7 linked regions of the Homo sapiens genome follow. The protein of the gene in region 7 purifies or fractionates together with the protein of the main gene of each other region. This does not show direct contact. Each region holds a gene or a part of one and is shown on either strand. Other genes may lie near its edges. The genes, in order: CCT6B, TPRKB, NUP160, RGPD8, KLC4, KIF5B and NUP43.

Region 1 (3,100 bases), on a different chromosome or scaffold from region 7:
AATATCTATACTGAACAGTTGTATTATAAGCCAAAAATAATTATTTCCCACCATTGGTGTCAATAATTCTCTTTCCAGATGAGACCTGTTCTATCTCACCATCTAGACAGAGAGCTACCAGAGCTAGCACAGTGGCATAAATTGTTGATCATACATACAAAAACAGCCAGATAAAATATAATAAATGATATACAAAATAAATTGAGTCAGATATTATAAACAATGCAACCCAAAGCTACACGCCATATTTATAAGAGGAAAGAGTGGCAGCAAAAAGTCACTGAAAGAATTTTGAGAGAAAATGAAACATTCTGTCCTACTATATTTATACCCTCTGATAAATTGGAAATTTACTTGGGTGTACTAAAACCTCTATTTTGTTAATTAAAACTTGTCAAAAGGTCTAAGTATCATAAAGATCCTATGCTATAAAAACTGCAATAGCATATAACAAAGAGTGGGGAGTTAGGACTCTTGGGGAAATATTTAAATATTATTCCTTTACTGTAAAAGTATTTATTGTGTTCTTTATACCTTGATGAAATATTTTTGAGACTATTAAGACCCAAAAGACATAAACTGCATTTATTGTGTAGAAATTCAGAATGGCTCAGGCTACACAATAGTAGTCAGATGTAAAGTGTACTAAATTTCATCTTCTAGAAGGGTTGATTTTGAATTCAATCATCATTTGAGAGAAGACATCCCAGCTCGCATAATTTCATCAACCAGGAGAATGTTGGTGGCAATCACTGTGCTAAGGAAAAAGATGAGAGGGTGAGTAAAGCCTACTAACCCACTCTTAGCTTTTTTCCCCAGCAATCTTTACCTATGTAGGGTACTTTGTTCTTTAATGATGTTAGTATGATGTTTTATGAGACAAGGCTATTATAAATACAAATACAAATGTCACCTTTTTTTTTTTTCCCAAGATGGAGTTTCACTCTTGTTGCCCAGGCTGAAGTGCAATGGCAAGACCTCAGCTTACTGCAACTTCTGCCTCCCAGGTTCAAGCAATTCTCCCGCCTCAGCCTCCCGAGTAGCTGGGATAACAGGCACCCACCAACACGCCTGGCTAATTTTTGTATTTTTAGTAGAGACAGGGTTTCACCATGTTTGCCAGGCTGGTCTCGAACTCCTGACCTTAGGTGATTCACCCGCCTCGGCCTCCCAAAGTGCTGGGATTACGGGTGTGAGCCACCGCACTGGCCCAAATGTCACCCTTTGTATTATAATTTAAACTCCTTTGCTGATAAAGTGCATTCCTGATTTATATTTCAGCAAAATTGAGCTTATTTTTACAATATCATTTGATTTTCTCCATCATGCATGTGCTATTATTTCAGTAAATTTCCCCTTTTCTTTCCCCCTCAAATAGTAAGGTTAATTTTTCTTAGAACTTAACACTGCTAGATCTAAAATATAAAAGGGACTATGGACTATAAAATGACAGAAGCTAGTTCTAATAACTGAATACCACACCTTTCATACACTTGACAATTTTTCCACTGTACAGGGACAAAAATAATAGAAAAAATTTCATCTTAATATTATCAATTATAACTCTACAGGTCTTTCACTTTATGTTCATATGAACTTACCAAGAGTGAAGAAGTTGTTTTTTTACACAATAATTATCCCAAACTCCTGCATCTGCTGCTACCATTGGCTCACCTGAAAAGTAAAAACAATTTTCATACCAAAATCTTAGTATTTGCTATTAATATTAATTGATATCTTCTAAAAATATTTAATACATTACCAAAACTACTTTTGTCAAGGTCATCAATGACCTCCATATTGTTAAATCCAATGGTTGATTCTCAGACCTCATCTACCAGTATTTAACACAGTTGATCACATTCTGCCGCCTACTCTATGTTATCTTCCAGGATACCACACTCTTCTGGTTTTCTTTCTTTTGCATTAGTGGCTCCTTTTCTGATTACTTTGCTGCTTCTTCCTCTTCCTCCCTGACCTCTTAACGTTGGAGTACCCAAAAGTTCAGTCCCAGCCTCTTTTCTCTCTACCCTTAATCCCTAGGTGATCTCATCCAGACTTTTAGATTTAAACCATACACATCTGATGACTCTCAAGGTTTTTTGGGTGTTTTTGTTTTTTGTTTTCTTTCTTTTTTTTTTTTTTTTTGGTGTTTTTTGTTTTTGTTTTTGAGACAGAGATCTTGCTCTGTCACTCAGGCTGGAGTGCAGTGGTGCCATCTCGGCTCCCTGCAACCTCCACCTCCTGGGTTCAAGCAATTCTCCTGACTCAGCCTCCCAAGTAGCTGGGATTATAGGGGCCTGCCACCATCCCCGGCTAATTTTTGCATTTTTAGTAGAGATGGGGTTTCACCATGTTGGCCAGGCTGGTCTTGAACCCTTGACCTTTAGTGATTCACCTACCTTGGCCTCCCAGAGTGCTGGGATTACAGGCGTGAGCCACTGCGCCTGGCCTGACTCTCAGGTTTTAATCTCCAACCCAGACCTCTTCCTTGAACTCCAGACCCATATATCCAACTTTTTTAATTAAAAGATTACAGATGCTTCAACTTTGACTCTGCCAAAACTGAATGCTGATGTCCTCTCACCCACAACCTGCTCCAGCCAGTATTCTCCACCACAGTTGATTGCAACTCCAACCTTCTACTTGTTCAGTTGACTTCTCTACAAAGTGGAGAGTGGCCAGAGTGATTCTCTTAAACATAATTAGGCCACATGCCTGGCCAACATGGTGAAACCCTGTCTCTACTAAAAATACAAAAATTAGCCGGGCGTGGCAGCAGACACCTATATTCCCAGCTACTCCGGAGGCTGAGGCAGGAGAATTGCTTGAACCTGGGAGGCAGAGGTTGCAGTGAGCCAAGATCGTGCCACTGCACTCCACAGCATGGGTGATAGAACGAGACTGTCTCATAAATTAATTAATTAGGCCATGTCACACCTCTGCTCAAAATTGCTCCCTGCTCCTCTAAAGTAAAAGCCAAAGTCCTGAGACTGGTCCAAATGCCCCTGCATGATCTGACCTTCTGTCACCTCTCTCACCTCCTTCCTCAGAAACATCAGACACTGGCTTTTCCACTGGCTGTTCTCTTTCCCTAGAA
Region 2 (2,486 bases), on a different chromosome or scaffold from region 7:
GTTTTATCATTTAGATTTCTGTCAGCTTCTCAAGCAAAAATACTTGAGGGGTCTTCCTGACCCTATATGGTAAGAACAGATAAAATTAACCTCGCTTAATTTAGCTAAATTTTTGTTTACTCATATGTAAACTGTCTTAGTAAGAGGCAGGGTTAAACCTCAACTCTCTGTCCAGAGCTCTCTTCACTATTATTTGGGTTTATTACTAACCACTGGCTTGCAGGAATTTAGCCTCCAACCCAACACTGAGGAACACATATGTTATTATGACACGGTCAACAGAAATAGGAAAGTGCACATTACATTGTTATTTGGGGAAAGGTTGAAAATAATTTCAGTAGATAGAGTTCTTGTCTTCATTTTTCCCAGTTTGTAGAGGTGAACTGCTTTGTTTGCTGCCACAAGTATCTGAAATGGATCAACAATCTACCAAAGCAAGGAAAAAGAATTAATTACACATGGAGAATCTGCAGTGCCTGAAAACACATGGTAACTCATGGTTAACTCCAGTGTCAAGCTGTTTTACTTCATCACAATTCTTACGGTCTGTATTTTCAAAACTATTATCCCGGCTGGGCACGGTGGCTCACACCTGTAATCCTAGCACTTTGGGAGGCCAAGGTGGGTAGATCACCTGACGTCAGGGTTCAAGACCAGCCTGGCCAACACGGCGAAACCCTCTCTACTAAAAATACAAAAATTAGTCAGGCGTGGTGGCACGCACCTGTAATCCCAGCAACTCAGGAGGCTGAGGCAGGACAATTGCTTGAACCCGGGAGGCAGAGGTTGCCGTGAGCCAAGATCGCGCCATTGCACTCCAGCCTGGGCAACAAGAGTGAAACTGTCTCAAAAAAAAAAAAAACAAAAAACAACTATTATCCCAAGGGCCTGGGTAGTCAGGAAATCACAGAATTTTAAAGCTGCAAGGAACTTATGCAAATAGTAAAATTTTTTTAAATAACATTAATTGAGGGCTAATATTATGGGCATGATCATATTGCAAACATTTTACTTGTAATATTTTCTTTAATCCTCAAAACTACCCTATGAAATTGACACTATTATTAGTAGTAGTAGCAGTAGTAGTAGTATGTAATTGATGAGGAAATTGAGGCAAAGAATGTCTGGGTTTGAATCCCATCTCTGTCACCTATCACCTAGGAAACTTATGCAAGTTCATTAGCATTTTATTTGTTAGAGACCGATGAAACAGTATTCACTCCATAGGCTGTTGTGAAGATTAAGCAAGTTAGTATACGTAAAGCACTTGGAACAATGCTAGGAATGCAGTAAGCACTATATAAAGGTTGGTTATGTCTTGTTCAAAGGCCTAAGTAGTAGGTCTGGGATTAATTCCCGGTAACATGATCGCACTGCGTGTGCCCTGTTTTTTTGTTTTTTTTTTTTTTTGGAGACAGACAGAGTCTCTCGCTCCATTGCCCAGGCTGGAATGCAGTGGCTCAATCTCAATTCACTGTAACCTCCGCCTCCCAGGTTCAAATGATTCTTGTGCCTCAGCCTCCCGAGTAGCTGGGACTACCAGCACACACCACCACACCCAGCTACTTTTTGTATTTTTAGTAGAGACACGGTTTCACTATGTAGGCCAGGCTGGTCTCAAACTCCGGGCCTCAAGCAATCCACCCACCTTGGCCTCTGTGTGTACTCTTAACCACTACACTATTCCTCCTCTACAGACTGTCTTGTTAGGAACCCCCATTTTAAAGATGAGAAGCTGGAGATCCAGGCATTTCCCATATTAGACCCAGACCACAACCTTTCCTATTTCCTAGGGCAGGACCTGGCACTTCTGCCTCTATTCACTGTTATAGTCAAAGTTGGCTGCATCTGACTTGGACAAGAATTTTTTCCCTAACCGTGACAGATTTTTAGGCTACCCTATAACATCACAAATATTAATGTATACTTAAATGCCCTGTATGGCTCATTCATTCTTTTTTTTTTTTTTTTTTTTTGAGGCGGATTCTTGGTCTGTTGCCCAGGCTGGAGTGCAGTGGCACAATCTCGGCTCACTGCAACCTCTGCCTCCCAGGCTCAAGCGATTCTCCTGCCTCAGTCTCCTGAGTACAGGTGCCCACCACCATGCTCAGCTAATTTTTGTATTTTTAGTAGAGACAGGGTTTCACCATATTGGCCAGGCTGGTCTCAAACTCCTGACCTCATGATCTGCCTGCCTCGGCCTCCCAAAGGGCTGGGATTACAGGCGTGAGCTACCATGCCTGGCCATTTTTTTTTTCCAGACAGAGTTTTGCTCGTCGCCCAGGCTGGAGTGCAATGGCGCAATCTTGGCTCACTGCAACCTCTGCCTCCAGGGTTCAAATGATTTTCCTGCCTCAGCCTCCCGAGTAGCTGGGATTATAGGCGCCCGCCACCACGCCCAGCTAATTTTTGTATTTTTAGTTGAGACAGGGTTTCACCATGTTGGCCAGGCTGGTCTTCAACTCCTGACCTCAGATGATCCACCC
Region 3 (3,500 bases), on a different chromosome or scaffold from region 7:
CCATGCCCGGCTAATTTTTGTATTTTTTTGTAGAGATGAGGGTTTGCCCAGACTGGTCTCAAACTTCTAGGCTCAAGCAACCAGGCCACCTTGGCCTCCCAAAGTGCTGGGACTATAGGTATGAGCCACCACATCTGGCCTTTTTCTTACTCTTGCTTGAAATTCTACCATTAGCGATGTATCTGGGTTTATAATTTCTTTTTTTTTTTTTTTGGAGACAGAATCTCGCTCTGTCACACACGCTGGAGTGCAGTGGTGCAATCTTGCCTCACTGCAAACTCTGCCTCCTGGGTTCAAGTAATTCTCATGCCTTAGCCTCCTGAATGGCTGGGATTACAGGAGTGTGCCACCAGACCCCGCTAACTTTTTTGTTTTAATAGACATGGAGTTTGGCCATGTTGGCCAGGCTGGTCTCGAACTCCTGGCCTCAAGTGATCTGCCCACCTCAGCCTCGCAAAGTGCTGGGATTACAGGTGTGAGCCACTGTGCCCAGCCTGAGTTAATACATTCTGACTTAAAATGTATAAGTACATTTATACATTTTAAGTCAGAATTAAAATGGGAGCCCCAAAGGACTTTTGGCTATTTACACATTAATATGAATTGGTTTAATTAGATTCCTTCTTTGACAGGCTCAAATGAGATTACTGACTTAGAAAAAAATGGGATGTCTGACTGTGGGGAGAAAAATAATTTCTTAGCATGGGACATTCAGTAGGGTGGGTGATTAGGACTATATATTAGCAACAAGAGTCTGGTGGTCTAAGAAGAACAGAATGAAAAAGAAAGCACAGAATAGAGTTAGGAGGACCACAAAGATAAACCTGCATCTCAAAACTGTGTTTAGGGTAAGCCTTGCACTGTAGAGAGTTCTTAGGTTGGGCAAGGTGGCTCATGCCTGTAATCCCAGCACTTTGGGAGGCCGAGGTAGGTGGATCACCTGATGTCAGGAGTTTAAGATCAGCCTGGTCAACATGGTGAAACCCTGTCTCTACTAAAAATACAAAAATTAGCCGGACACGGTGGCACGCACCTGTAATCCCAGCTACTCAGGAGGCTGAGGCAGGAGAATTGCTTGAGCTGAGATAAGGCCACCACACTCCAGCCTGGGCAACAGAGCAAGATTGTCTCAAGAAAAAAAAAAAAAGAGAGAGAGACAGGAAAAAAAAAGAGTTTTCTTTTTCTTCCTCCATACTAAAGGGTATGCTTACCACATTCATAGTTACTAATAATACTACATTTTGGGAGAGCCAACTTGGGAAAATTTTCCACTACTACACATACAAAGGTTAAGAGTAAAGCAATCTGCTTCATGTATGTTTTTTAAAATCTACTGTTAAGTTCCAGGGTACATGGGCAGGATGTGCAGGTTTGTTACGTAGGTAAACGTGTGCCATGATGGTTTGCTGCACAGATCAACCCAACACCTAAGTATTAGGCCCAGGATCCATTAGCTATTCTTTCTGATGTTCTCCCTCCCCACCGTCCCCTCCATATATGCTCTTAATCTATACTCTCACAAGGATTACAATGCTTATTCATTCTTAATTCAAAAATATTTATAGAGCATCTCATAAGGCCAAGCTTGGGAGAATAAAGCAGTGAACCAAGACAAAAGTATCTGTGCTAGTAGGGCTGACATTTTGCTCCTAAGTGCTTGTAGGCCTATAACAGGTTTTAGATTTTACAAGTTTTCCCTCAAGCAGTACTTACAGCATCTCCAAGCCTCATTAACAGCTGCTGTAAGATCAAAAGATCTCTGCAGATCAGGAAACGAGTACTGGCGATTTTATGCACCCCTCTGCACACAATATACCCTGCTGTGTTACTACCATAGAGCTGGGTAAGATTCATTCGAATATTCAAAGGCTGAGCTGTAAAAAGAAGAAAAATGGAGTTGAATGCATCATTGTTTTAATCAAAGAGGCACATTTGTTGTTCTGTCATTTACCTGGATTGAATCCCTTTTCCATTTCCACTTCTGTTTCATAATCCATTTCCCGTATAAGTAGTCCAATTGCATGGATTGGGTTCCTAATCTCTTGCAGTTTACTACAAATATCCTCCATCACATTTTCTCTATAAGGACAATTACAAAACTCTTATTACTACCGAGAATACGTAAGGCAAGTTCTATATGTCCTATAAGCTAAATACATTATGAAACAAGAGAACCAGATAAAGGAATGAAGATAATCACTCTGGCATATAAGATACAGTCCCTATGCATAGCAAATTTCCTCTCAGTTTTTCATAAACAACACACAAAACAAACATGAGAAGAACACTTTTGCTTTTTAGAATTTTTAGCTCGGTTAATTGTTAAAGCATATTTTATAAGTCTATTTCTAGACTTGAAGTCGTGTTAAATTTTCTGTTAAAAGTAGAAATATGTACTTAGAATCATGGCGCATCAGTTTGACTTTAAGCTACTATTCTGTACGCTCTGGAACATACATTAAAATTCCAACTTTGGCGCTAAAAATGCTGAATTTCCATTAGGAAATGCACTTTACCCTAATTCTCCTTACACATCAATAGTGATCATATCTTCCAGAATCTGCTCTGCAGCCTTTTCCGGAGACTGTAGGTTATAACAACTCATTTCCATTATAACTGACATATCCACAGTTACTGACTCTTCAATCAGCCGGAGGCATTTTATAAGACATATGACATCCCGAGCGATGTCCACATCTACAAATAAGAGAAAGTTAACATTTATGTCTTAAGCCAATGACAATCTATTGATTGATATTACATTAAAATGTTAATAATTAAATGACAAGAAATCTATCTGAGGTCTCAGAGATGCTTTGGTCTCTTAAGTGTTCATTAAAATATTTGTGGTGTGGTAAAGTGACCAAGACAGGTGTGGCAATCGATATTTTTTGTATCCATGTGAAACGAAGCATAGGGTTTATATAGGAAGGGGATTAAATATGGACATAACAATTACTATTACCATCAGATATGGTTGTCTCATCTTCTGTCAAAAGGTTCTCATAAGGCAGGAGATACAAATGATCCACTAAGGATGAGGGAATAAGGAAAGACAGGTACCCCTGGAAATACAAATTTTCCAGTTACATTTTTGTCAGTAAAATTTTAAAGGTATAAAATAATTGAGATGTGCATCTTATCATGAGGCAAACCCAAGTTGCAATACACTCTATAAAATAATAGGTGTAAGTCTTGGCTGGGCACAGTGGCTCACATCTGTGATCCCAGCAGTTTGGGAGGCTGAGGTGGGAGGATCACTTGAGCCAAGGAGTTCAAGACCAGCCTGGGCATCATGATGAAACCCCATCTCTAAAAAAAAAAAATTAGCCAAGTGTGGTGGCACACAGCTTTAATTCTAGCTGCTAGGGAGGCTGGGGTGGGAGGATCACCTGAGCCTGGGAGGTTGAAGCTGCAGTGAGCCTTAAGAGTGCCACTGGGCCGGGCGCAGTGGCTCACGCCTGTAATCCCAGCACTTTGGGAGGCTGAAGTGGGTGGAT
Region 4 (3,500 bases), on a different chromosome or scaffold from region 7:
GTAATTTCAAAAATACTCAGTAATATGTTGTTATTAATGCACAGAAGGGATGCGTGTGTCTAAATGCTTAGATTTGCTTGCTTTGTCTTAGGTTTGGTGTGTCTTTTTAAACTTGGGAATCTAGGTATATGCTCTTAAAAAGTACTTCTTGGGGAATTAGAAAAGATTTCTAAGATAAGACATTGATTTTGTTATCTTAGCAGTGTAATCAAAACAAATATTATAACCTCAGGACTAATTCTTAATGAACTTTGCTGAAATTGAAAGTTGTTGCTGACAACTTAAGAGCATTTCTTCTCATCGTCATCAGCCATTATGAACGCCCTTGTTTTCTTGCTGTCAGCTGTTTGAGATTGTCATGATGATGTTAAATTATGTTCAGTCTTCTGAGTGTTTTGTTGATTAATTTGTGTTACTACTCTTTTATTAGGATTTATGTTGTCTGGTGTATTGTAGCATCTGTATTTCTGTCACCATTGAAAATCAGTTAGAAAACATCAGTAACTTATTTTGTTCACTTGGAAAAGCTTTCCAAGTTAACATTCCTCTACAATTATCATGGTTAACAGAAGTAATAGAAAGAGCATGGACTTTAGAATCAGAAGATGTTAGACTGTACAACACTTTTCTGTGTTCCTGAAGAAAAAAATAGAATAAAGACAAAAAAATAAAAATAATAATACAAAACAACAGAAAAACAAAGAAAAAAGATAATTAAAAAACACTTTCACGTGTATTATTATTTAAAGTGTAAAGTGCTTATTAAAGTGACAAAAATGTAAATAAGATAAAATATATCATTTTAGAGTTTTTACTTTTGGAATTTTTTGCAAATGAAAGCCCTTAATTAATGTCTTTTATTTTTAGTTGCCTGTGCCCCTGGAGTCTGTAAAACAGATGCTTAATTCAGTCATGCAGGAACTCGAAGACTATAGTGAAGGAGGTCCTCTCTATAAAAATGGTTCTTTGCGAAATGCAGATTCAGAAATAAAACATTCTACACCGTCTCCTACCAAATATTCACTATCACCAAGTAAAAGTTACAAGGTAAACAGGAAAGAATGGAATCATTTCATTGTGAAATTGTTTCTGTTCTAAGTGTTTTAAATGCTGTTTTGTTATTTTTATTTTTTTTTTCAGTATTCTCCCGAAACACCACCTCGATGGACAGAAGATCGGAATTCTTTACTGAATATGATTTGCCAACAAGTAGAGGCCATTAAGGTAAGTCACTTAATTTCTCTAGCTGTACTTTTTATTCCAAGATTCCTTCCCTGGCTACTCTCTCACTTTTTTTCTGAAGCTGGTCAGAATGTCCCCTTGCCATCCAAATAGTATGGCAAGGGGACATTTTGGTCTTTTTTTTTTTTTTTTAAGACAAGGGTCTTGTTCTGTTGTGCAGGCTGGAGTACAGTGGTATGATCACAGCTTACTGCGGCTTCAACCTCCTAGCTCAAGAGAGCCTCTTGGCTCAGCCTGCCACGAAGCCAGGACTACAGACAGTCACATGCCACCAGGCCCAGCTAATTGTTGTATTTTTTGTAGAGATGGGATTTTGCCATGTTGCCCAGGGTGGCCTTGAACTCCTGGCTCAAACAATCCTCCTGCTTCAGCCTCCCAAAGTGCTGGGATTGCAGGTGTGAGCCACTGTGCCCAGCCTACATACCTCGGTCTTGACCCTTTACCATATTTTGTTTTGTTTTGTTTTGAGATGGAGTCTCACTCTGTTGCCCAGTCTGGAGTGCAATGGTGTGATCTTGGCTCACTGCAACCTCCACCTCCCAGGTTCAAGTGACTCTCCTGCCTCAGCCTCCCGAGTAGCTGGGATTACAGGCACCCGCCACCAGGCCCAGCTAATTTTTGTATTTTTAGTAGACACAGAGTTTCACCATGTTGGCCAGGCTGGTTTTGAACTTCTGACCTCAGGTGATCTGCCCACCTTGGCCTCCCAAAGTGCTGGGATTACAGGTGTAAACCACCGCACCCAGCCCTTTACCATATTTTTGAAAGTACTTTATGTGTCTCTCTCCTCATCTTCCACAAAATTTGAGACCTTCAAAGGTAGAAACTGTTTTATTTAAAATATAAGAGTTCCTGACACAGAGAAGGTTCCCGAGTGATTGAAGTGCTACAATGTACTAATCATACTCTGGTCTATGAGTTCATTCCCAGATTAGCTGTGGATTACATGTGTTTCAAATGTATAGCTAGGAATCGAAAAGTGGTCTGAGCTTCAAAAAGTCTTACTATATTTTAATACTTCCATATGAATTTGACTTAATTATGTAAGGAAATAGTTATGTATATATATCTTATTTTAACAATAGGGTTCAAAGGAGCTTGACTTTTTTGGAATTGGAAATAAAAGTAGGTTCTTTCATGTTTATCAAGCAAGAACTAAATTACTCATACTGCTAAAGTTACATCAAGGATATGCTGATGTGTGGCGATTATTACAGTGTGATCAGCAGCATTTGCAAATTAAGAGAATACTATTTGGTGGGGAAGACATTTTTGAATTTGCACAAAAATTTTGAATGTTAATTCTGTGTAGTCGTGGCCTATGACAATTACATACAATTTTGACTTAACATACAGGTTTCAGGCTCCCAACATTGTATTCTGTGGAAGTATAGTGGAGCACTAGTCCATGAGCTTGAAAAGCTTGGTACTAGTACTGACTCTGCCATTAATTAATGATCTTGGGCCAGTCACTTCCTTTGTGACTGTTTGGCTTCTTATCTTTAAAATGAGAGAATTATTGAAGCCAGTTCTCATCACACTGAATGTTAAAAATTACAGTTACAGCAGTGATTGCAAATTCAAAGCTCTGGTGCGGATACCAACAGTGACTATAAAGTTTTCTAGGTGATTCCACTAGTTTCTTATTTCTTGGATGTGTATGTGTAGCATCTGGACTAGGCACTGTAGATGGATGAATGGGGGAAATTTTATTTAGCTTGAAAATTGAGATAGTTTTGGACCTCATGGTTAGGTCTTTCTGGGAAATTTTTAATTGAAACACTTGTAGAAACAGAAAGCAGACATGCTAGATCTGTCCCTGACCTCACTTGTTAGAACTGATCGGATTCCTGGGCTGATACAGAGAAGTTTGAAACTTTTCAAAATTTACCTGTTTTCTGATACCACTACAATTTCTTTGGAAAAAGAATTTCCTGTTAAGTGTCTGTTTTGTAAGGGGACATTTTGTAGGTTCTAGGGTGTTGGGTATGGTGCTGTCATTTAGTTTTCTTCAGCAGAGATCAGGTAGCCACATAGCTACACTAGACGGCATTGGATCTATCTGCCATCTTGTCAAGGCAGCAGAGTTGTGTTAAGAAAACATTTTTGGAGTCAGATGTGTTTCAAATTCCAGCTGTTATTCCCTGCATCCGTTTCTCTCATTTTAAGATAGGAGCTAATATTGTTTACCTAACAGTGTAGATGGTGTAAAAATTAAGAGTTTAAGTGCATTGGACGTATTATTATATACATAATAA
Region 5 (3,500 bases), about 110 Mb from region 7:
GTGATGGGCATAGGTCAAGGGAGTGGATAAAAGAATAGCACTTGAGGCAGGTCTAATATTGAGAGTCCAGGTTGGGGTGGGCACAAGTATGGAACAAGACATGCAATGGGGAGTGGAAGGGCAGACAGCAAAGGGGAGAGGAAGAGTCCTTTGTTTATGTTCTGTGATGGTTTAGTGTCCCGTGGTCAAGGTGCTACAGCAGCTCAGCAGGGTGGATATGAGATCCCAGCAAGGTTGCGGACGTTGCACAACCTGGTGATCCAGTACGCAGCCCAAGGTCGCTATGAGGTGGCCGTGCCACTCTGTAAGCAGGCACTAGAGGACCTGGAGCGCACATCAGGCCGTGGCCACCCTGATGTCGCCACCATGCTCAACATCCTTGCTTTGGTGTATCGGTGAGGACTTCCCTCCTCCAGTGCCCAGATCTTCCCCCACATTCCCACCTTGGTCCTCCTTTGGCTTTCATTTTTCCTCTTTACAGGGTACCTCTCCTCCCTGTTGGGCCTCCCAGATACACCCCAACAGGGTGCTTCTTTATGTGCCAGAACTCTCACTTTTCCCATACCTAAGCATTTGCTCATCCCTTGGGATCCTTGTTCCTCTAATCTCTCTTCTGGGGAGTGCTCTCTCCCTCTCTTCCCCCTGCCCCCTTGCTTCTTATAACTTGTGGCCTCCTCTTGGGATGGCAGTGCCCTGCATTCTGGTATGAGTATGTCAGTGAAGCCCCCTTACTGTCCACGCCAGGCTTCCTGTCTCCTCATGGAGGTCTCCAATCCTTAAATGTACTCAGTCCTTCCAAAGGGAAGGAGGGAAGGAGAAGGCTTGCGGGTTCAGGGTAACTCCTGTCACTTTTGTCTTCTTCCAGTGACCAGAATAAGTATAAGGAAGCTGCCCACCTGCTGAATGATGCCCTTAGCATCCGGGAGAGCACCTTGGGACCTGACCATCCTGCTGTCAGTATTCCTTGCCCTCCCCACCCCACGCCCCGCACCCCCCACCATTGCTGTTTTGGCCTCTCTTAGCTCATCCATCTGCTGCCCTCAGTCCACTCACTAAGGGTGCTGAGGAAGGAGGCATAAGAAGTCCTTTCTTCCAGGCACTGTCCAGTGATCCTAATGATTCTCAATTCTCTGAGACTCAGTGACTCCTTTTTATAACAAATATTTTGCTTGAATTTAATTAATAGATAAGTCATAGGTAAATCCACATATGATTTCTACAAAACTTAATATGCTACTCTAATAAATATAAAAGAAAAACAAGAAAAGTAATTTGTAAGGACAATATATACAATGTAATATAATAAGGTAAAAATACAAAACAACAGTAGTTGTATTGAGTACAACTTTGTTAAAAGAAATAGCAAAGTGGCCTGGGCACAGTGGCTCACGAGTGTAATCCCAGCACTAATCCCAGCACTTTGGGAGGCTGAGGAGGGTGGATCACGAGGTCAGGAGATCGAGACCATCCTGGCTAACATGGTGAAACCCCATCTCTACTAAAAAAAATACAAAAAATGCCGGGCGTGGTGGCGGGCGCCTGTAGTCCTAGCTACTCGGGAGGCTAAGGCAGGAGAATGGCGTGAACCCGGGAGGCGGAGCTTGCAGTGAGCTGAGATCGTGCCATTGCACTCCAGCCAGGGTGACAGAGCGAGACTCCGTCTCAAAAAAAAAAAAAAAAAATGAAAATATAGGTGGACAGGCCGGGCGCGGTGGCTCACGCCTGTAATCCCAGCACTTTGGGAGGCCGAGGCGGGCGGATCACGAGGTCAGGAGATCGAGACCATCCTGGCTAAAACGGTGAAACCCCGTCTCTACTAAAAATACAAAAAATTAGCCGGGCGTAGTGGCGGGCGCCTGTAGTCCCAGCTGCTTGGGAGGCTGAGGCAGGAGAATGGCGTGAACCCGGGAGGCGGAGCTTGCAGTGAGCCGAGATCCCGCCACTGCACTCCAGCCTGGGCGACAGAGCGAGACTCCGTCTCAAAAAAAAAAAAAAAAAAAAAAAAAAAAGAAAATATAGGTGGACACTTTATTAAAGTACAGTATTATAAGAAATCACAAGGGTCGGGCACAGTGGCTCATGCCTGTAATCCCAGCACTTTGGGAGGCCAAGGTGGGCAAATCACGAGGTCAGGAGTTCAAGACCATCCTGGCCAACATGGTGAAACCCCGTCTCTACTAAAAATACAAAAATTAGCCGGGCGTGGTGGGGGGCACTTGTAATCCCAGCTACTCAGGAGGCTGAGGCAGGAGAATCACTCGAAACCAGAAGGTGGAGGTTGCAGTGAGGTGAGATCGCGCCTCTACACTCCAGCCTGGGCAGCAAGAGCAAAACTCTGTCTCAAAAAAAAAGAAAATAAATGACAGACCAGATTTATTTGTGTATAAGAGGAAGAGACTGGGCTTGGTGGCTCACGCCTGTAATCCCACCACTTTGGGAGGCCAAGGCAGGTCGATCACCTGAGGTCAGGAGTTTGAGACCATCCTGGCCAACATGGTAAAACCCCGTCTCTACTAAAAAAAAAATATAAAATTAGCCAGGCATGGTGGCATATGCCTGTAATCCCAACTATTTGGAGACTGAGGCAGGAGAATCATTTGAATCCGGGGGTTGGTGGTTGCAGCGAGCCGAGATCGCACCACTGCACTCCAGCCTGGGCAACAGAGCAAGACTCTGTCTCAACAAAATAAGAAGCGGCCCAGCGCTGTGGCTCACTCCTGTAATTTCAGCACTTTGGGAGGCCGAGGTGGTCGGATCACCTGAGGTCAGGAGTTTGAGACCAGCCTGACCAACAAGGTGAAACCCTGTCTCTACTAATAATACAAAAATTAGCCAGTTGTGGTGGCATGCACCTGTAGTCCCAGGTACTCGGGAGGCTGAGACAGGAGAATTGCTTGAACCCAGGAGGCTGAGGTTGCAGTGAGCCAAGATCGCACCATTGCACTTCAACCTGGGTGATGGGGTGAGACTTCATCTTAAAATAAATAAATAAATAAATAAATATAAATAAAAGGAAAGAGAGAAACAACCTTAAGTAGAGATATCACGCCAAGGCAAATGATAGAGTTGTCAATGTACAGAAAATGAAAAATGAAAAGTTTGTTTGTTTTGTTTTGTTTTGTTTTGTTTTTTGAGATGGAGTTTCGCAGTGTCACCCAGCCTATAGTGCAGTGGTACAATCTGGGTTCACTGTAATCTCTGCCTCCCAGGCTCAAGTGATCCTCCTGCCTCAGCCTCCCAAGTAGCTGGGATTACAGGTACGTGCTACCACGCCAGGCTAATTTTTGTATTTTTAGTAGAGATGGGTTTTCACCATGTTGGTCAGGCTGGTCTTGAACTCCTGACCTCAAGTGATCCACCTACCTCAGCCTTCCAAACTGCTGGGATTACAGGTGTGAGCCACCACACCCAGCTGAAAAGTTATTTATTTTTTGTTGAGATAGAGTTTCACTCTTGTTGCCAGGCTAGAGTGCAACATGGCACGATCTTGGCTCACTACA
Region 6 (3,500 bases), on a different chromosome or scaffold from region 7:
TTAAATTTAGAATAATCATGGTAGAAAAAACCCACAAAATATTTCCCAATCCTGTTTATTTTCATGTTTTTCTTACCACTGTCTCTTCCAAACCCTTCAAGTCTTGTCTTGCTTGTTCTCGTCTATCTTGCATAACCCTAACAGTAGAAGAACAAACATATATTTTCAAATTTTATTCTGTATATTGTACTTAGCATGAGAGTTGAATAAAATATTTTGTGTCTGAAAGGATAAATTCTTAAATTTAAATAAATACAAGATGCCTATTTTAAACAATTTACCTGTGCTGTCTTTCAAAAAAAAAATTTTTTTTTTTTTGACACAGAGTTTCTGTCCCAAACACTGCTCACTGCAACCTCAACCTCCTGGGCTCAAGTGATCCTCCTCACCTCGTCTCCCAAATAGCTGGGACTACAGGCATGTACAATCAGCCCTGTCTAAAAAAATTTTTGTAGAGACGGGGTCTCACTATATTGCCTAGGCTGATTCTCAAACACTGGGCTCAACTGATTCTCCTGCCCTGGCCTCCCAAAGTGCTGAGATTATGGGTGTGAGCCACTGCAGCTTTGCAATTTCAAAAAATTTTCATATGCCTTCTAAACAACAGTCTATTGTTATACATTCCATATATAGCAATGGAAGAGATGAAATAAAATGTGGCAGAATTCAAAGAATAAGGAATAGTTCTATAATTTATATTTTAAAATATGCCACATGTATTATACTGCTATTTATCCAAAATGATACTGATTAATTATAGATTATAAACTGTCAAAGACTAAAATATTTTACATTACAAGTATTCTAAACAAAATTACAGCTGCAAGTTAGCAGAATCTTCATATAATCCACTCTGAACTGGTCCTGATGTTCTAACTATCCTAACAATATCAGTTGATTTGCAAATTGTCTCACAAACTCAAGGTATGTGAAAAATTATAATCATGCACTTTCTACCTGCTAAGATTCTAGAAAACTGAGTTTTGAGAAAATGAGAAAAGGTAAACCATGAAAACCTCTGTTCAAAATGGCAAGGCTAAACACCACAATGCTCTTTTATGCAAGAGAAAATTTAACAAAAACTCAGTTTTTGTGTTAGATCTTAAAATCTTCGAAGTTACTTAATATATTGTTTTAGGTTCATTTTTATGCTGGATCCTGAAGTAATATGGAGATAAAGAAACAGCAAGCAGATTAATAAAGAGAAACCTTAATCTTAACCACAATGAAATATAAGACCTTGCTTTCACTCAAATGCAAGTATATATTCCAAGTATTTAGATATAAATCAAACCAACTCAGTGGATTTAAGAAAAAATCCTTTAGCCCATACAAAGTAAAATATGTATCCACTGGCTATATCCAAAGGTAATGCCTATAATCCTCTAATTTAGCTTTTATTTTTAAACTTTAATTAAAAACAATTACTCACGTAAGTTCATGTAGTTTTCTGCTCTTTTCCTGATCTGTGGCTTTCAACTTCTCATGTTCTACTCTTAGACGTTCCTGCTCTAACATCATTTTCTGGTTTTGGCTGACGAAAGAAAAAAATAATTAACACAGTATCAATATCACAGTTTTCTCAATGTCATCATTAAAATTTCCAAACTTTTAAATTCTATAATCTCATCAAGGACTTTTCTGTTATCCTATACCCTATGGAGGAAAAGAGGAAAGGGACCTGGCTACTTGTGGACATACAAAATTTTTCGTATTTTGGTTTGAAATCATGATTCTGTTCTCCTCTGTCTTTCATCTTCCTGAATCCTTATGCCTACTTCCATCAGGTATTCATAGTAAGACCTACGCCCCAAACCTCATCATTATTTTGTTATGTTATTCTCTTCTTGGTTCCTACTCAAATTGTTGCAAACTCTGACTTCCATAAACTCTATGTATGTGCACATGGTTATGGAGGCAGGGAAATTGCTTCTAGATAAACTAAGATGACAACTTAAAAAAAAAAAAACCTTTGAAAATCCATAGAATTTCCAGAAAAGTTTTTCCCAGTTAAGAATTTTGAGTCAGGGTCTCGCTCTGTCACCCAGGCTGTAGTACAATCATAGCTCACTTCAGCCTCAGATTCCAATACTCAAGCAATCCTCGTGCCACAGCCTCCTGGGTCACTGGGACTACAGGCATGTGCCACCAAGCTCAGCTAATTTAAAAAATTATTTTTTGTAGAGATGGAGTCTCACTATGTTGCCCAGCTGGTCTTGAACTCCTGACTTCTAGTGATCCTCCCACCCCAGCCTCCCAAAGCACTGGGGTCACAGGCCATCAGCCACTGCACCCAGCCAAGAATTTTTTTAAAAAAGGAAACTAAATAAAGGATTTGGAGAAGACTGTGGTATGCAATAATAGACTTAGGTTGGGGATTTTTTTCTTTTACTGAATAATTTAGATCAAAAGACCTAAAAAAAAGCCTCAAAAATTTCACCTGGAATTTAGAAGTTTTACTCATAAATGAGAAAATTCTTTATTTTCCAAGATAAAAATGTAATTTTGATGAAAACTGCAGGTTTCTAATAAGAATATATACCATGACCATCAGTAACCGATTCTTTCCTCCTAACTAGAGAAGTATAATACTTACTCTTGAAGATCAGTAATAAGTTTTGCTTTTGCTTCTACTTCATCTCTCAAACTACTGATCTGTTTTTGATGAGTTTCTCTATGGCTCTGGATCTGCTGTTCAACAGCTTGCTAAAATTTTGGGGGGGAAAAGGATGTTAAAGTCAGACTAATCAAAATTAATACTGATTAATTAAAGCTGTTAGAAATGTGACATCAAACTTGCCTTAACTTCATTTGCAGTCTGAACCTTATTTAAGTGCTCCTTTTCCATTTCATGGACTTTCTCTGTTTGAATAGAGAGAAAATAGAAGAGTGAAATAAGCCTTTAAGGTTCCTCATATAAACCAAGGAGCAAATGGATTTTACAATAAGCATTTTCCTTAGCAATATTCAACTTCAAATTACCCAAATGTCACCTGCTCTCCAAGTTCAATGACATGTAGACTAGTATACAAGTTACATCCATTGTGTTGGTATTATGTATTCCTTTATGGTTTGTTTGGTTTTTTTTTTTTTGGCCTAATCCAGAACAGATTAGTTAAGGGAATGGTAAAGAAATGAGATAACTCCTAAGTCCCCTATGTTAAGACACACACACACACACACCCCGCTTCGTAACTGTGGGAAATCCCCAGATTGGCTATTTCCATATTCAAACAAAATCTTAAAAATATATATATATATGTTTTGACAGGCACAGTGGCTCATGCCTGTAATCCCAGCACTTTGGGAGGCCAAGGCAGGCAGATCACGAGGTCAGGAGATCAAGACCATCCTGCGTAACACGGTGAAGCCCTGTCTCTACAAAAAAGGTAAAAAATTAGCCAGGCGTGGGGGCATGTGCCTGTGGTCCTAGCTACTAGGGAGGCTGCAGCAGGAGAATCACTGGAACCCAGGAGGTGGAGGTTGCAGTGAGTCAAGAT
Region 7 (2,857 bases):
AGTTCCACAAGCTGTCTGTCAATAATACTCTGAAGGCAACCTATTCATCAGCACCAGAATCCCACTGATTTTCTTCCACATGTTCACAATCTTTTGCCATCAGTCATCTATCGGATTCTACAACTGTTTGGGAGTGTCAGGCTAACAAAAGTCAAAACTGGGCATTGACATTAATGGTAGTTTACTGATGTTTCCCCTGCAAATCTCGTATTTTCTGATACTAAAATTTTGCACAGAAGTTGGATTTCAAAAGGCTAATTGCATGTTCTATCTGAAATCTTATAATTATAGTACTTCTACGAAAAAAGATGTCTAGTAACATAAATTGCTTCTGCATCGGTTCCACAAACAAGACAAGGACCTAAAACATCCAAAGTGTTCACAGACAGAGACCTACTGGGAAGTAAGCTTGTGATTTCAATTCGGTCTTTTGCAGGATCAGTGCTGAGCCAGGAGCTAATGACAGACTGGTGAACATTAGCTTGGTTACTAATGCTATGAGACAAAAAAGTACTGCTTCTTCCTCCTGGGAGAAAAAAAGAAAAGGAAGAAATCTTTCAAGATGATTTTTATATTAGTAAACATTCAAACTTCTACTGATATTTAGAAAGGTGATGATATCAATGTGTTTAATTCTCAGAATAATAGGCTAATAATTCCATTATTATACATCACCACTTTGGACCAAAGGCTTATTCAGTGATATTAAATATTCAAATTTCCATGGGATAATATGGATACCAAACTCGAAGTCTTCAGGAAAAGCAGGTGATTTCAACTGACTTTCTGTTCATCTTTTAATGGAAAGTCTCAGAAAGGTAGCAAAACGGCCAGCATACAAGTTGAATAAGGAAAGAAAAAAAAGAAACCAAAAATGTAGGTAATACATGGAAATATAAACTCTTGGGTAATAACAAAATAAAATGATCATGAGAAAGAATTTCTAGACATATTTCTAGATGAACATTTCTAGAAATATATTTCTAAATATATATTTGTTACTATATTTCTTAAAATATAATCGCCTTACCTCAAATCTTTCATTCTTATGCTTTTTAGATAAATGTTCTTACAAGCAGATTAGAACACTACTAGATTATAAGGTTTTATCTCTAACAGCGCACTGTACTTACTATAGAATAAAGTGAGGCAGAGGCAGTATATTTCAATTTTAGTCATTATTCGCAACTTACTTTCCTCTCAACTTGCTGTCATATCAAATAAGTACAAATTTAATTCACTCAACAAATGACTGAGTACCTACTATGTGCCAGGCTCTGTGCTAAGTGCTCTGTGCCAAGTCCCTATGTCTTGAAGCTTAAAGATTAGTACATTTAAAATCTTGCTGATCCTTTAAAATATGGCTGAACTTCCTTCTCTAAGAAAACTTTGAAGACAACCTCTACTTCATGTTTTTCTCTTTCCTTGAACCCTCAGCACTTGTATGTACCATTAATTTACTACTTTATAACAATTCTTATATCCTAATTGAACTATCCATGCCTCTGTCCATGACTAAATATGTCTTAAGAGCAGGATGCATATTTTATATGTTTTACTTTTTCACAGTGTCTAATACTGTGCCTTGCAATAGTAGACACAGAATAAAGTTTTATTTCCAGTCTAACCAAGGTTCCTTAAAAGTAAACTTGCAAGTTCAAGACTGTGCGGTTAGGGGAGGAAGGAAGTAAAAACGAAGTACATACTTAGTTAATCCTTAGATGAAACTGTTTGTTTCTCTGTAGATGAAGTTATAGCATGGACATGCATGCATGCTCCACACATGCTCTCCGCTCCAGAATTTTTCTGAAGAAGTTTTAGAATTTTTTTCCCCTTAGTTTTTCTGTTTATCTTTTACTGCCCCTACATTTTACATTGCTCTTGGACGCTGTAAAGATTAACACATTATTCAAGCCACTGTGATAAGACTCCTTCCTCATCTCCCTGTTTTCCACTTTTCTCCTCCCCCTCCCATAAGTCTAAAGTCCTTATCATGGGCTACAAAGTCCCAGGGCTCCTCAGCCACCAGTCCTTATCTCCCACCACTGTACCCTGCTGCCTGAGCTCCAACCGTGGTGTCCTTGCAGTTCTCTGCCTGTCTCAGGCCCTCAGCATTTGCTGTTTCCTCTGCCTGGAATGCTTTCATGTCACTTATGCCTTCACTTCTCTTAAGTCTCTGCTCAAATGTTCCTTCTGCCAAGTGGCCTCTTCTGACTCTCACTAGAGTAGCTCCCCTCACCCCTGTCTTTATTCTTTATCCTCCTACTCTGCTGTATTCTTCTTCATGGTAATTAGCAGTGTATTTGGCCATGTTATTTTCCTTTTTCTTTTTTTTTGAGATGGAGTCTTGCTCTGTTGCCCAGGCTGGAGTGCAGTGGCGTGACCTTGGCTCACTGCAACCTCCAACTCCCGGGTTCAAGCAATTCTCCTGCCTCAGCCTCCAGAGTAGCTGGGATTACAGGCACCCACCACCACGTTCAGCTAATTTTTGTATTTTTAGTAGACACAGGGTTTCACCATGTTGGACCAGGCTGGTCTTGAACTCCTGGCCTCAGGTCATCTGCCCACCTCGGCCTCCCAAATTGCTGGGATTACAGGTGTGAGCCACCGCGCCCGGCCTCCTTTTCCACTTTGCTGTGCTCCACTATATACTGTAGGAGGTAGAAGTTGGTAAACTCCACTTTCCAGGCTGCTTTGCCATCTGCCATCCAGATGGGCCTTGCCAATAGCAGGTATTAATGGTGGGTGACTGGAAGGCGGAAGGGAGAAGCAGCTCCTTCCTGCTCCAGGTTTCTGGCAACAACACTGGTGGTAGTTTCAGCCTGGTTGAGGGAGCGCCTTTTCTCCTAATTCAGAA

The links.
Region 1: the proteins of NUP43 (region 7) and CCT6B purify together in Homo sapiens (affinity purification with mass spectrometry; 3 studies listed by BioGRID and IntAct, with this or other methods). This does not show direct contact.
Region 2: the proteins of NUP43 (region 7) and TPRKB purify together in Homo sapiens (affinity purification with mass spectrometry; 4 studies listed by BioGRID and IntAct, with this or other methods). This does not show direct contact.
Region 3: the proteins of NUP43 (region 7) and NUP160 purify together in Homo sapiens (affinity purification with mass spectrometry; 7 studies listed by BioGRID and IntAct, with this or other methods). This does not show direct contact.
Region 4: the proteins of NUP43 (region 7) and RGPD8 purify together in Homo sapiens (affinity purification with mass spectrometry; one large-scale study listed by BioGRID and IntAct). This does not show direct contact.
Region 5: the proteins of NUP43 (region 7) and KLC4 purify together in Homo sapiens (affinity purification with mass spectrometry; 4 studies listed by BioGRID and IntAct, with this or other methods). This does not show direct contact.
Region 6: the proteins of NUP43 (region 7) and KIF5B purify together in Homo sapiens (affinity purification with mass spectrometry; 3 studies listed by BioGRID and IntAct, with this or other methods). This does not show direct contact.

What each region holds. Positions count from the first base shown.
Region 1 is NC_000017.11:34,927,361-34,930,460, forward strand, and holds the end of CCT6B (T-complex protein 1 subunit zeta-2), read right to left. Parts: intron 1,675-3,100; coding exon 1,602-1,674; intron 758-1,601; coding exon 688-757; 3' UTR 501-687; downstream 1-500. UniProt on the Homo sapiens protein: Component of the chaperonin-containing T-complex (TRiC), a molecular chaperone complex that assists the folding of proteins upon ATP hydrolysis.
Region 2 is NC_000002.12:73,731,860-73,734,345, forward strand, and holds part of TPRKB (EKC/KEOPS complex subunit TPRKB), read right to left. Parts: intron 846-2,486; exon of another isoform or gene 842-845; coding exon of another isoform or gene 725-841; intron 427-724; coding exon 304-426; intron 1-303. UniProt on the Homo sapiens protein: Component of the EKC/KEOPS complex that is required for the formation of a threonylcarbamoyl group on adenosine at position 37 (t(6)A37) in tRNAs that read codons beginning with adenine.
Region 3 is NC_000011.10:47,810,351-47,813,850, forward strand, and holds part of NUP160 (nuclear pore complex protein Nup160), read right to left. Parts: intron 3,066-3,500; coding exon 2,966-3,065; intron 2,698-2,965; coding exon 2,532-2,697; exon of another isoform or gene 2,517-2,531; intron 2,080-2,516; coding exon 1,952-2,079; intron 1,875-1,951; coding exon 1,714-1,874; intron 1-1,713. UniProt on the Homo sapiens protein: Functions as a component of the nuclear pore complex (NPC). Involved in poly(A)+ RNA transport.
Region 4 is NC_000002.12:112,395,646-112,399,145, reverse strand, and holds part of RGPD8 (RANBP2-like and GRIP domain-containing protein 8), read left to right. Parts: intron 1-867; coding exon 868-1,047; intron 1,048-1,140; coding exon 1,141-1,224; intron 1,225-3,500.
Region 5 is NC_000006.12:43,066,131-43,069,630, forward strand, and holds part of KLC4 (kinesin light chain 4), read left to right. Parts: intron 1-175; coding exon 176-395; intron 396-865; coding exon 866-953; coding exon of another isoform or gene 954-1,022; exon of another isoform or gene 1,023-1,267; intron 1,268-3,500.
Region 6 is NC_000010.11:32,018,426-32,021,925, forward strand, and holds part of KIF5B (kinesin-1 heavy chain), read right to left. Parts: intron 2,863-3,500; coding exon 2,801-2,862; intron 2,707-2,800; coding exon 2,597-2,706; intron 1,975-2,596; exon of another isoform or gene 1,535-1,974; coding exon 1,433-1,534; exon of another isoform or gene 138-1,432; coding exon 77-137; exon of another isoform or gene 1-76. UniProt on the Homo sapiens protein: Microtubule-dependent motor required for normal distribution of mitochondria and lysosomes. Can induce formation of neurite-like membrane protrusions in non-neuronal cells in a ZFYVE27-dependent manner.
Region 7 is NC_000006.12:149,726,673-149,729,529, forward strand, and holds part of NUP43 (nucleoporin Nup43), read right to left. Parts: exon of another isoform or gene 2,847-2,857; coding exon of another isoform or gene 2,818-2,846; exon of another isoform or gene 1,889-2,817; coding exon of another isoform or gene 1,848-1,888; exon of another isoform or gene 1,808-1,847; intron 1,807-1,807; coding exon of another isoform or gene 1,718-1,806; exon of another isoform or gene 527-1,717; coding exon 297-526; 3' UTR 1-296. UniProt on the Homo sapiens protein: Component of the Nup107-160 subcomplex of the nuclear pore complex (NPC). The Nup107-160 subcomplex is required for the assembly of a functional NPC.